Linked DNA regions of Homo sapiens: region 2 is linked to region 1. Evidence: fine-mapped expression QTL. Tissue or cell type: whole blood. Region 1 holds a variant in brackets; the other region holds the start of a gene. All regions are shown on one strand. Distances are from middle to middle.

The links. PIP is the estimated chance that this variant, and not a neighbour inherited with it, causes the effect.
Region 2: it holds the start of KANSL1-AS1, and the variant in region 1 is fine-mapped to the expression of KANSL1-AS1 in whole blood (INTERVAL, PIP above 0.99).

What each region holds. Positions count from the first base shown.
Region 1 is chr17:46,722,787-46,728,046 of GRCh38, forward strand. It overlaps NSF (N-ethylmaleimide sensitive factor, vesicle fusing ATPase), which reads left to right. Exons shown (of 21, transcript NM_006178.4): 16 at 3,763-3,829. It also overlaps a transcript of LRRC37A2 not described here. Among named protein-coding and RNA genes, the nearest start is that of WNT3, 93 kb to the right of the region's middle. The variant G/A (reference allele first, on the strand shown) is at 2,946.
Region 2 is chr17:46,190,990-46,195,989 of GRCh38, forward strand. It overlaps KANSL1-AS1 (KANSL1 antisense RNA 1), which reads left to right and starts at 2,584. Exons shown (of 2, transcript NR_034172.1): 1 at 2,584-2,749. It overlaps KANSL1 (KAT8 regulatory NSL complex subunit 1), which reads right to left and starts at 2,440. Exons shown (of 15, transcript NM_015443.4): 1 at 1,834-2,440.

The sequences.
Region 1 (5,260 bases):
TTAGAGCAGAGTAGCTACCCGGAGGAGTTTCAGTTGACTGGTTACCTGAAACTAGTCAAGTTACAACTGGAATTGCACAGCCTTCGTCATGGTCGGTGTGTTAATAGAGCTTGCTGTGAGTGCACCTCTCCCTCTGATAGTAATTAGCACAGAGACCGACTGCAAAAAACAAGAACGTCACTACTTGATATTAAGTGACTGCTGCAGGTATTTTTCCTCTCAAATGTTATGTGTAGGCCATGCAGTCAACTGTGAAGTGATTTGGAATGCTTTGTGAATTACAGTGTCTGAGATAAGTTGGTGAGACTACATACCATGTAGCAAGTCATCATTAGTTTAGACCTAAGCAATGTCCTGAGTAAGGTCCTTGCAGCCATATAAGCTGTACATTGTTTTGAGAAGGAAAAACATAGAACTACTGCAACCAGCCAGGCTGTGGTGTTCCAGGTCCCTGTGGCTCTAATCCATGATCTCACAGCCTGATGGTCAGAGTTATATGCTGGCATCAGAGCTTTTAGTAGAATTCTGAAAAATGTTTTGAAAAGCAAAGCATTATTTTCAGTGATTCCTTAAAATTACCTGAGTTTATAAGATACCACATTGGCTGCGGTTCCATCTTCAAAAAAAGTAGCAAAGAACCGCTGTAGAACTGCTTCTGAGCTTTTCAGTTGTCTCGAATGTACCAACTCAAAGCCAAAAGGAACCATCATTGTGTATCAAGAGACTGAAATAAATATCCTATTCTCATTTTCTCTTTTTCTGTGTTTGGGGAGGAGAAGATAAAAGGCCCTTCCCTTCTTGCTCTTTAAATGTACTCATGATCCATTTTCAAACCAGCTTCACCTCTGTGTTTTATTTCAGTTGCCAAATCAGGACAGATCCTTGACTCCAGTTTTCTCTTTCATCACCACACCCATTCATTCACCAAGTTCTTTCAGTTCCTCCTCCTAAACATCTCTAGATTCTGTCCACTTACCAGCACACCCACTCCCTGGCCACCATCATTTCTCACCTAGAACTCCACAATCTCAATTAACTATTATTCCCCTCTAATGCTTTTCTATACAATCAGGAAAATGTTTCTAAAACATAAGCCTGACATGTCAGTCCATTGCTTATAACCCTTTAGTGGCTTGTTATTGCCTTTACAGTAAAATTTTAACTCATGAAATTTGTAAGACTCTTTACGTCCAAGTTCCTTCATCACCTCTTCTAATTCATCTCACCTACCACTCCACTGCATTGACACCAACACCACTTTATTTTAATTCTTATTGACCGTTCCTGCAGTGTTCCTGAATGTTCACATCTCTGTGTCTCCTAATTTTCAGTATATTCTGCTTAGAACACTTTCTTCCACCCTTTCCACTGGTTAACTGTTGTTCATGCTTCAAGTCTCAGGTTAAGTGTCACTTCCTAAATTTAGGAAACTGTCCTGACTCCCTAAGTCCATTTAAGAGTCAAGATAGGCTGAGTTATGCTGCATGAAAGGACAACCCGAAAATCTCAGTGGCTTAACACAACAAAGTTTATTTTTTATTTACACTACTATATCTCCGTCATGGCTCAGACAGTGAGTTCTGTTCATTATATTTTCTCAGAGACTCAAGCTAATAGATAATAGAGGCCCCGCCTTACATCTGATTCCATGATAGCCAAGGCAGGGAAAGGAGTATGGTGAATCATGCAGTGACTCCTAAGGCTTCTTTCAGAAAGGGGTGTATTTCCCCTCATATTTCATTAACCAAAGCAAGCCCCATAGTTATGCCTAACTTCCAAGGCACTGGGGAAATACTGCCTACCCTGTGCCCCCGTATCATCTTGTATTTCCCCTAGCCTAATAATGTCATGCTTTGTTATAATTACATGTGACTTGCTTCCCCAACTCTAACTTTTGTGAAAGTAGGATTATTTTTGTCTTATTTATTATCCTCTGCAGTGCCTTCATTAATGCTTGATACATAATAAGAATTCAAAAATATTTGTTGAGTGAGTGAATGAATAAGGCAGCACTCCAAGACTCAATCCTTAGGCCTTTTTTTCTTCTTCTTCTGCCATTTCTTCTTGAAGATGGCTTCCTCTGTCATGGTTTCAGCAGTCACTGCCCTGAGAGTGATTTCCATTCCCTGACTTCAATCAGATATCTCCAACTTCTCACTTAATATTTCTACTTGAATTTAAAATGTGTAAATTTATTCTTTTAGTAAATACTTCTTAATTACTCTCTAATAAGGCATTATATTAAATGATATGAGGATACAGAGGTAATTAAGACAGCACTTGCCATCTGAGGGCTTGCAATCTAGTATAATACAAAAATAGTACAATGAATCAATAATATATATACGTAATATACAAAATCCTGTGCCAAAGGAGAAGACAAGTGATTTATGGCAAGATGGAATTGGAACTTGTGTTGTTTCAACCATTGAACCTACAGAGCAGACATCATTACTGAATTCTGTTCTGTGCTGGGCACTACACATAACATGAACAGAATAAAGCTTTTATCCACCTCACAGTCCAGTGGGGAGACAGATAGCTTAGGACGAAAGGATAGATGGGGTTTAGACAGAGTGTGGGAGGGTAATTAGGGGGTAAAGGGATGGTGCATAGGAAAACGTTTTCACCAGAGGGGTTGACCTGATTAAATATCTGGAGAAATTGTCAGTATTTATGCCAGGAAAGAGGTAAGGAAGGAACTGAATCAAGATGGTCACAGTGAGACTCTATTATGGTAACTTAATTGTTAGGAATACTTTAAAAACCAAGTATACACAGGTTGTTTTTAAACCTAACATGAAAAATGGTTAATATCATGAGTTTGACTTTATTTCTGTACCTAATTATAAGTCTTCAATGGTTAAAAGATACCCAGGAAGGAATATATGCCATTCCAAGCAAGATGTTGGTGCGGGTGGGGATCGGGTTTACTATCTTGGTGT[G/A]CTGAGGTTGGTTACCAACCAGAGAGAGTGGGCTGGGATGCAGAAACTAATTCTTACTCATGACACTGATGAGATTTCCTGAGCCCCACCTGTAGTCTCTGGAATAGTACCTTCATTTCCAAAAAGGCTAGTCTCAAGGCCTTGAGTACTTCTATTCAACTTGCAGATAAGCTAATTCTTCTATCTGATTTGAAATTACTACATCCTTGCCAGGCTAAAACCGTTCCTTCACTGCTTAATTTCATTCTCATTTTCTTGACCATCTTAAGACAGTGCATTCATATCTTTTGTCTGGTTTTATACGTACATCTATCTGATCCTTCATACTCAACCTTTAATTCTTTTGTAAGCTCTTTTACCATTATGGTCTGATTTGAGTTGACAGAATTCTGATCTTTCAGTGTTACTTTTGCTTAACAGAGCCACAATTCTTATAGATAATAAAATGGCATCTAGTTTTATTTTACACATCTCTTGTGGCTCCATCTAGCTCTTGAGTCATTACACTAAAGTCCTGCTCCTGACACAGATACCAGAGACCAGTGTGATAGAAGTGATGGGATGTGTCAGTTGATTAATGATCAGCTAGTCCCCAGCCTGCCCAGGTGTGACACACACAGCTGTTAGTGCTGAAAACAGCCTTAGCCTGCTCTCTGTTCAGCGGTGATCCAGTGTGTCAATTCTAATTTATTGTAGTCCAAAGTGTTGGTGTTTTCCTGTGCTTTGTTTAGTATTGCTCAAGAAGTAACTAAACTTCTTGGAAATTGTCGTAACTGTGGAGGACAGTGAGATAATAAATGACTTTGTTTTCTTTCAGATCTTTGATGATGCGTACAAATCCCAGCTCAGTTGTGTGGTTGTGGATGACATTGAGAGATTGCTTGGTGAGTCCTAACTTCTGCTGTTGTATTATCTTTGCCACATTACAGCTAATATCTCAAAAGTTACAAGAGAAAATTAACAAGTATTTATAAACTGTAAAGCAATAGAAATACCTTTCTTTGTCTTACAAGGAAATATAATGTTCTCTCTTAAATAGCTGACATCAATGATAGTATTCATTTTAATATGCCCTGTGACTATAACACCATTATAAACTGCTTTCTTGTAAGGGCCCATGTCTCATTTTGTATCTTCCAGTGTGCCCTTGCCATAGTAAATGATTAGTAATTTTCATTGATGAGTATATCTGTTATTTAGGACCTCTGAGCTCAGAAATTCACTTGTGAACTTTGACAGAACTAATGAAAGAAGGGTTTAGGATCACAGAGAAATCTGCAAATTCACTAAAACACTAAGGGCAGAAGTTGTAAGCTCTCTGCACCTCAGTTTCTGCTCTTACAAAACAGAGACTATAATCCCTCTCTTGCTTATCCCACAGAGTAATTGTGAAGACAAAAATGGGATAATAAATCTTGAAAAAATTTTGTAAGTTAAAAGTGCAGTATAGTAATTTTTAAAATATGTATTAAATATCTCCTGTGTTGAAGTGCACTCCTACAGAATACAAACATGAAGAAGACTTGGTCCTGGCACTTAACTCATAAGAAATAAACTGCAAGGAAGGGCCAGAAAGTTGTTAATTTTATTTCACTGTAAAATTAAATCAGTCTGACATAAATTCATTACAACAATGGCTCAGGAAGGGGTAATACACTCTATTGAAATGGAAACCCACCTGGTGACTTAATAACATCTGAAAATACTACCCAGTGTCTGAATAATCCCTTCTTCTTTAAGCTGTCCATAATGGTGTAGTCGTGATTTCAAGCTAACTGTTCTTACTGCATTTTTCCCATGATTTTCAGACCTGCTTTTGGTCCTCTGTTATTTATTTTTTTAAGTTTTGGCAGTGTCTGTTATAAAGCAAAGCAGGTATATCTGTGAGGTCTCCATAAATTGATAGTGGGTTTTGGGTCTGCTAGGTTTGATACATCTCAGCCCAGTTTATGGGATGATTTCTTTAAAAGCTTTTAGGCACAAACTCATAGCTCTGTGTAAATTCCTTTATCTTAACACAATTGAGGTGTGTGGTCATAGCAACACTACCATGTCAGGAATGTGTGCCCTCTGAGTACATTTCACTGGTATGAATAGTTATCATCTGTGCATGCTTGCTCATTTATTCAATAAGCACTTGCTGAGCCCTTCCTCCTCTGGTAGAAGTATTAGAGTCTCAGAAAAAGACGCTGCTGCCTGTCTTTATAACATATGTTGGCAAATGTTAATGCAAAGTAGAATGTGCCATGTATTTTGGATATTCTGTTTTTTTTTTTATTTTTATTTTCCCTCCCACTGTTCTCATCAGGTGGATA
Region 2 (5,000 bases), 530 kb before region 1:
AAATCAGGATCAATGCATACTCAAGAACCACATTTCGTATTTACTTTAAAAAAAAAGTTTCTTAATTCAAAATGTTTTTTCAAATTGAAAAAATGTCTAGTAACCTATGTAGAAAAAACCAGAAATGTACTTCGTATTTTATAAAATAGGAGTTTACCCAATTATGGGAAAAACTGATATAAAGAAACAGATAAAGGAATAACATACTTCTAAAACTACAGGATTAAAAGTAAAAATTTTCTAGATCAACACCGAAATGCTAATAAATACACTTAGCATTAGGCACAAAACAATTACTACTCAAAAGTATTCACTGTTGATAGGTTAAAAAAATAGTTTTAACTGACAACGCCTGTAGACAATTGAAATTTTCTAAATTGGTCAGACAGCATGCTAGAAAAGGAACCAAGTAGAGCCTATAGGAAAGGGGAAAGGGAAAACACACCCACTTAAGCCTTTGTAAATAGTGGTCCTTTAACTGACCCAAAAAGCAGAGAAAACAGAAATTACAGACCATCCTGACAAATGGAAAACATATTCTAACGTACTAGTTTCCATACTTGAAAGGACTTTCAAAATGAAGTTCAGTAGCAATCTATAACTATATCATGATTATGCAAGGCAAAGATTATGTAATTTTATCGTTTATTTTAAAATGTTCTCCGACTCTAAAACTAAAACAAGTAAAACGTTTTGATCTCTCCAAAGCGAAAAGGAAAGGTTCCTCTGAGCTGCAATTTAAAAATATAAACACACACCCCAAAACAAACAAAAAAACACAATGATTGCTAGCCACGTGACAAAGGAGATGGCAACACCAGGATTGTGAATGGAGGGGAGGGAGGCGAGGCTGGAGGAAGAGAGATTTCTCGGAACTTTGGGGACCGCGGCAGTCGGTCTGCCGACCCTAGGAGCACTAAACTCCAGCCCCTACGAGTTGTGCTTCTAACACCCTCAAGTACAGTTTTATTAATAAGTCACAGAAAATGCTCCAGTGACCTCCAGGATAAAGGGGGGTGGGGGGGACCGAGGAAAAGGAAAGAGAGCAATTTAAAGTGGCGCCATCATGTCACCCCTTCTCCCCTAAAGCAATCAGTAAGCAATAGTTAAGTAGCACGTTTCTCTATAAATCCACATTGGGATTCCAACATTGGAAAACGAGGATTTTTAAGTAAGACACGGGAGTAGCGCTGTTTATCGTATGGAAAACAAACTATTTGCTAAGAATCAAAAGACCGTCAGCCGGAAAACAGGCCCCCAAAAAGGCAGTTAAGATTCCAACTCACTTAAAAGCAAATAAATCCCTCTTCCTCTTTAGTTTAAAAAAAAAAAAAGTCCGCCTGAGGGAGACTACATCTGAAAACGTAAGTGACCTGAATTTACAGGCAACAAAAATAATAAATGAAACAATCAGAGTTGTGATACAAACCGTGCAACGCGCCAAGATGTGTGTTTCGAGCAGAGAAAGGCCTTTTGCAGTCAAGAGAAGTTCAAGGCGAGAGCCAGAGTTTGTTTGGGGGGTTCTTTTACGGGAATAAATCATGTTCTTCAGGCCGCCTTTTTAAATAGAACGCCAAAGGAAAAGCTGGCGAACGAGGCGGCAGCTCCTGGGGAAGGGCCCCCGCACACCCCCGCCCTTGGGGCGACTCCCAGCCCGGACCCGCAGCAGGGAAGCCCGGAGAGGCCATTTAAAGTTCCGGGGGATTTTTCTACCCTGCCCTGCCTTTCTAGTTACAACTAACAAAGAGAGAGAGAAATGGGAGCCACAGGGAGAGCGAGGAGAAGGAGAAAGGGCAGCAGGAGGAGGAGGAGAGGAGCAGCAGCAGCACCTACCACGTGATGGAGGAGCGTAGCCCGGGCGGATTCAGCCCCACAAAATGGGCGCAGTTTGCAAACAGCCCCCCGGCCTGGGCGCCGAGGGCCAGCGGCGGGCGGGGGCGCGCGACGGCGGCTCCGGCCCGGGCCCGCCGCTCTCCTCCCCCCGACGCCCGGAGCCGCCCTGACTTTCCGGGCGGGGGGGCGAGGCAGAGGGGGAGGGGAAGGCGGCGGCGGGGAGCGGCTGCTTTTTCTTCTCTTTCGGGCCCTTTCCCGGCCTTGCTCCGCACCGACGGGGCCCGAGCACGGCTGGAGACCGCAGCCCGGCCGGGAGGGCGGGCGGGCGGGGGCAGAGAGTGAAACCGCCCCCCCGCCCCGCACAAACAAGCACCGCCGTCTGCAGCCCGAACCCGCACCCAGGCCGCCACCCCCGGCCGCCTCTTTCCAGCCGGGGAGCGCGCTTCAGCCGCCCCCCGCGCCGCCGCGGCGAGACGAGTCGGCTTCGCTACGGTGCTCGGTTCTCCCGCCGGCTCGGCGAGCGGTGGCGGCGGTGGCGGCGGCACTGGGAAAATGGCGGCCGAGCTCCTTTTCCCTCCCCCCCTTTAATCTGAAGCGGAGGGAGAATGGAGCGAGCGAGCAAGCGGGCGAGCGCCGGGGACACGGGGAGGAGGGACAGCAGCGCCTCCGCCGGCTGCGGCTGCGGCGGCGAAGGGCCGCTCCACCCCGGCGCGCCGCCAGGGGGCGCCCGCCGCGCCGCCCCCGCGGGCCGCCAGGAGGCGCGGCCGCCGCCGCCTCAGTCATGGCTCCTCGCCGTGGCCGATGTTTTTGTACCTCCATCTGCGGAGGCCGCGGCGCCCGGCCCCAGCTGCCCCGGACGTGCGGCGACGGCACGCAGCACTGCGGCAGGGGGAAGCCAGCCCTCGCTGCGGCCGAGGTGAGTCTAACCTGAGGCACTGACGCCGTCACATGCCCTCCGTGCTGGGGCCGGCGGTGCGGCTCGCCAGTTGAGGGGCAGGGCGGGCCGGCGCCGCGGAGCGAGAGGACGTGAGCGAGGAACTGTTTGCACTGTGTAGTAAAGAGGGTAAGGCCGTCGGCACCACACTATTCCAAGGCTAACCCTGCAGAAAGCTCCCTGACCAGTGAAGCGGCTTCCGCCGCCCGCCCTTTGTCCCTAGCAGCCAGCCTCCGTATACTGCAGCACGGCTGGGCACTAGCCCCAGCACCGCGCTCCGCAGCCACCAGAGTTGGGCGGGGTGGGGAGGGTGCACGTAGTCACTGCGCAGGCCCCAGCCAGGGCCCGCGCCGGGCCAGCCCGGGAAGGGACAGCCGGGAGCCAGAGGGGAAGTGATGGCCCCGCCGGCGCCGGGCCCGCTGGGAACTGTAGTTTTCGTGAAGAAACACGCGTCTTGTTTTGGGTGTCATGGCTTGGCAGATCCGCCAAAACAGGCAAATGGCATTACACAATGAGTATTTATGCTTCCTGCCGCCACCAAAAGGAAGTTCACTGCCATGCTAAAAGTTTAACAAAGAACTCCATAAAGAAACACAAGTCTCACAACAAAAAGCCAACTTCCCACCTCGTTACCAGAGTTGGTTTAAAGTGGTGGCACCTTATCATTTCTCATGACCAGTTTATCAGTACAGAACTTTATATTGTCCCCAAAATAGGACCTTTAAAATAATGGAACCTTTCCTAGACTTAAAGAATTCATAAACATAATGTAATACAAAGTGTCACACAAAGTGTAATTCTACCACCCTTTAAAGTTGCCAAAAGATGAGTGGAGTATCTTGAGATTTAAAAGACTAATCTAGGATTCATCAAAACTGGCTTAAATGACTGAAGAAAAAATCGTTCAAATCATTAAATCATCAAATTCGGCAGATAAGAAGGGTATGTATGCTCTACTACCAAAAAGGAAGACGCAAAATGCTTCACACTTTTTTGTGGCTTACCAGAACCAATATCCGGCATTATACGTCACTTCTGCTTATCAAAAAACACCCTCACAGTCGTTACAGAACGGTTTTAGTCTTCCCACAAAGTTACACTAACTCACCTGCCCCTGCAACATCTGCACCTAGGTTTCTGCGAATTTCCATTTGTACTCCTAAAATCACACTCTCAAGCATAGTCATAGTTCTCAAATACCAAAGGCAGGCAGTTTGGAGTCATAGGGTCAAATTACACAAAGAATAAACTAATATTTGTATACACATCCAAAAGAGGTCTTTAGTCTTGGATTTTTAATTTACAACCCTGGGGAAAAACTTTGACTTTTTTATTGTACACACATACACACATAAATAGTAATTCCACAAAATACAGTAGAAGGGTATTGGACCAACAGATGGCGAACTAGAGCCCCAATCTGAGGCTCCTGAAATCTAAATTAGCAGAATGAAAAATACCAAATAAGGCAAAGCCCTTTGCAGCGTATACTTAAATATTAAATTCAGACACACCATAACAAAATAATCTTACTGCTGCTCCAAATTTTTAAGACTGAACTGTCAGATTTAATTAGGCAACCAAATAAGCAAGATTATATGAAATATATTTTTCTAATGGATTAGGAGAAAACTGGAAAATGCTCATTTTTAAAACCATGTATTTGGGGGAACTATAAATTCCAGTTTCCCCTTTCTCTCATTGCTTAGTGCAAGAGTCAAGAGTTCACAGGGTTTATGGCACTTAAATCAGTCAACCTGTTGTATATTCTTATCTAAAATCAGACATCTTTCTTATTAGGCATCCACTTGTACTTTTATTTTTTTGACAGGGTCCTGCTCGGTTGCCCAGGCTAGAGTGCAGTGGTGCAATCAAACTCACTGCAGCCTCCCAGGCTCAGGCGATCCTACCTCAGCCTCTTGAGTAGCTGGCACTACAGGCATATGCCACCATGCCCAGCTGTTATTTTTTTCACTCCTTTTTGTTTTGGTAGATACAGAGTCTCCCTATGTTGCCCAGGCTGGTCTCGAACTCCTGGACTCGAGTGCTGGCATTACAGGCATGAGCCACCACACAAAAATCTTATGAAGAGAAACAAATTTTCTTAAATTTCCCCCCAAAAAATAGTGGATGTCCAAAAGGCTGATTGAAAACACCTACATACAAAATAAAACAAACAAACAAAAAAAGATTTAAAGAAAAAGGCCTGGTGCAGCAGCTCACTCCTGTAATC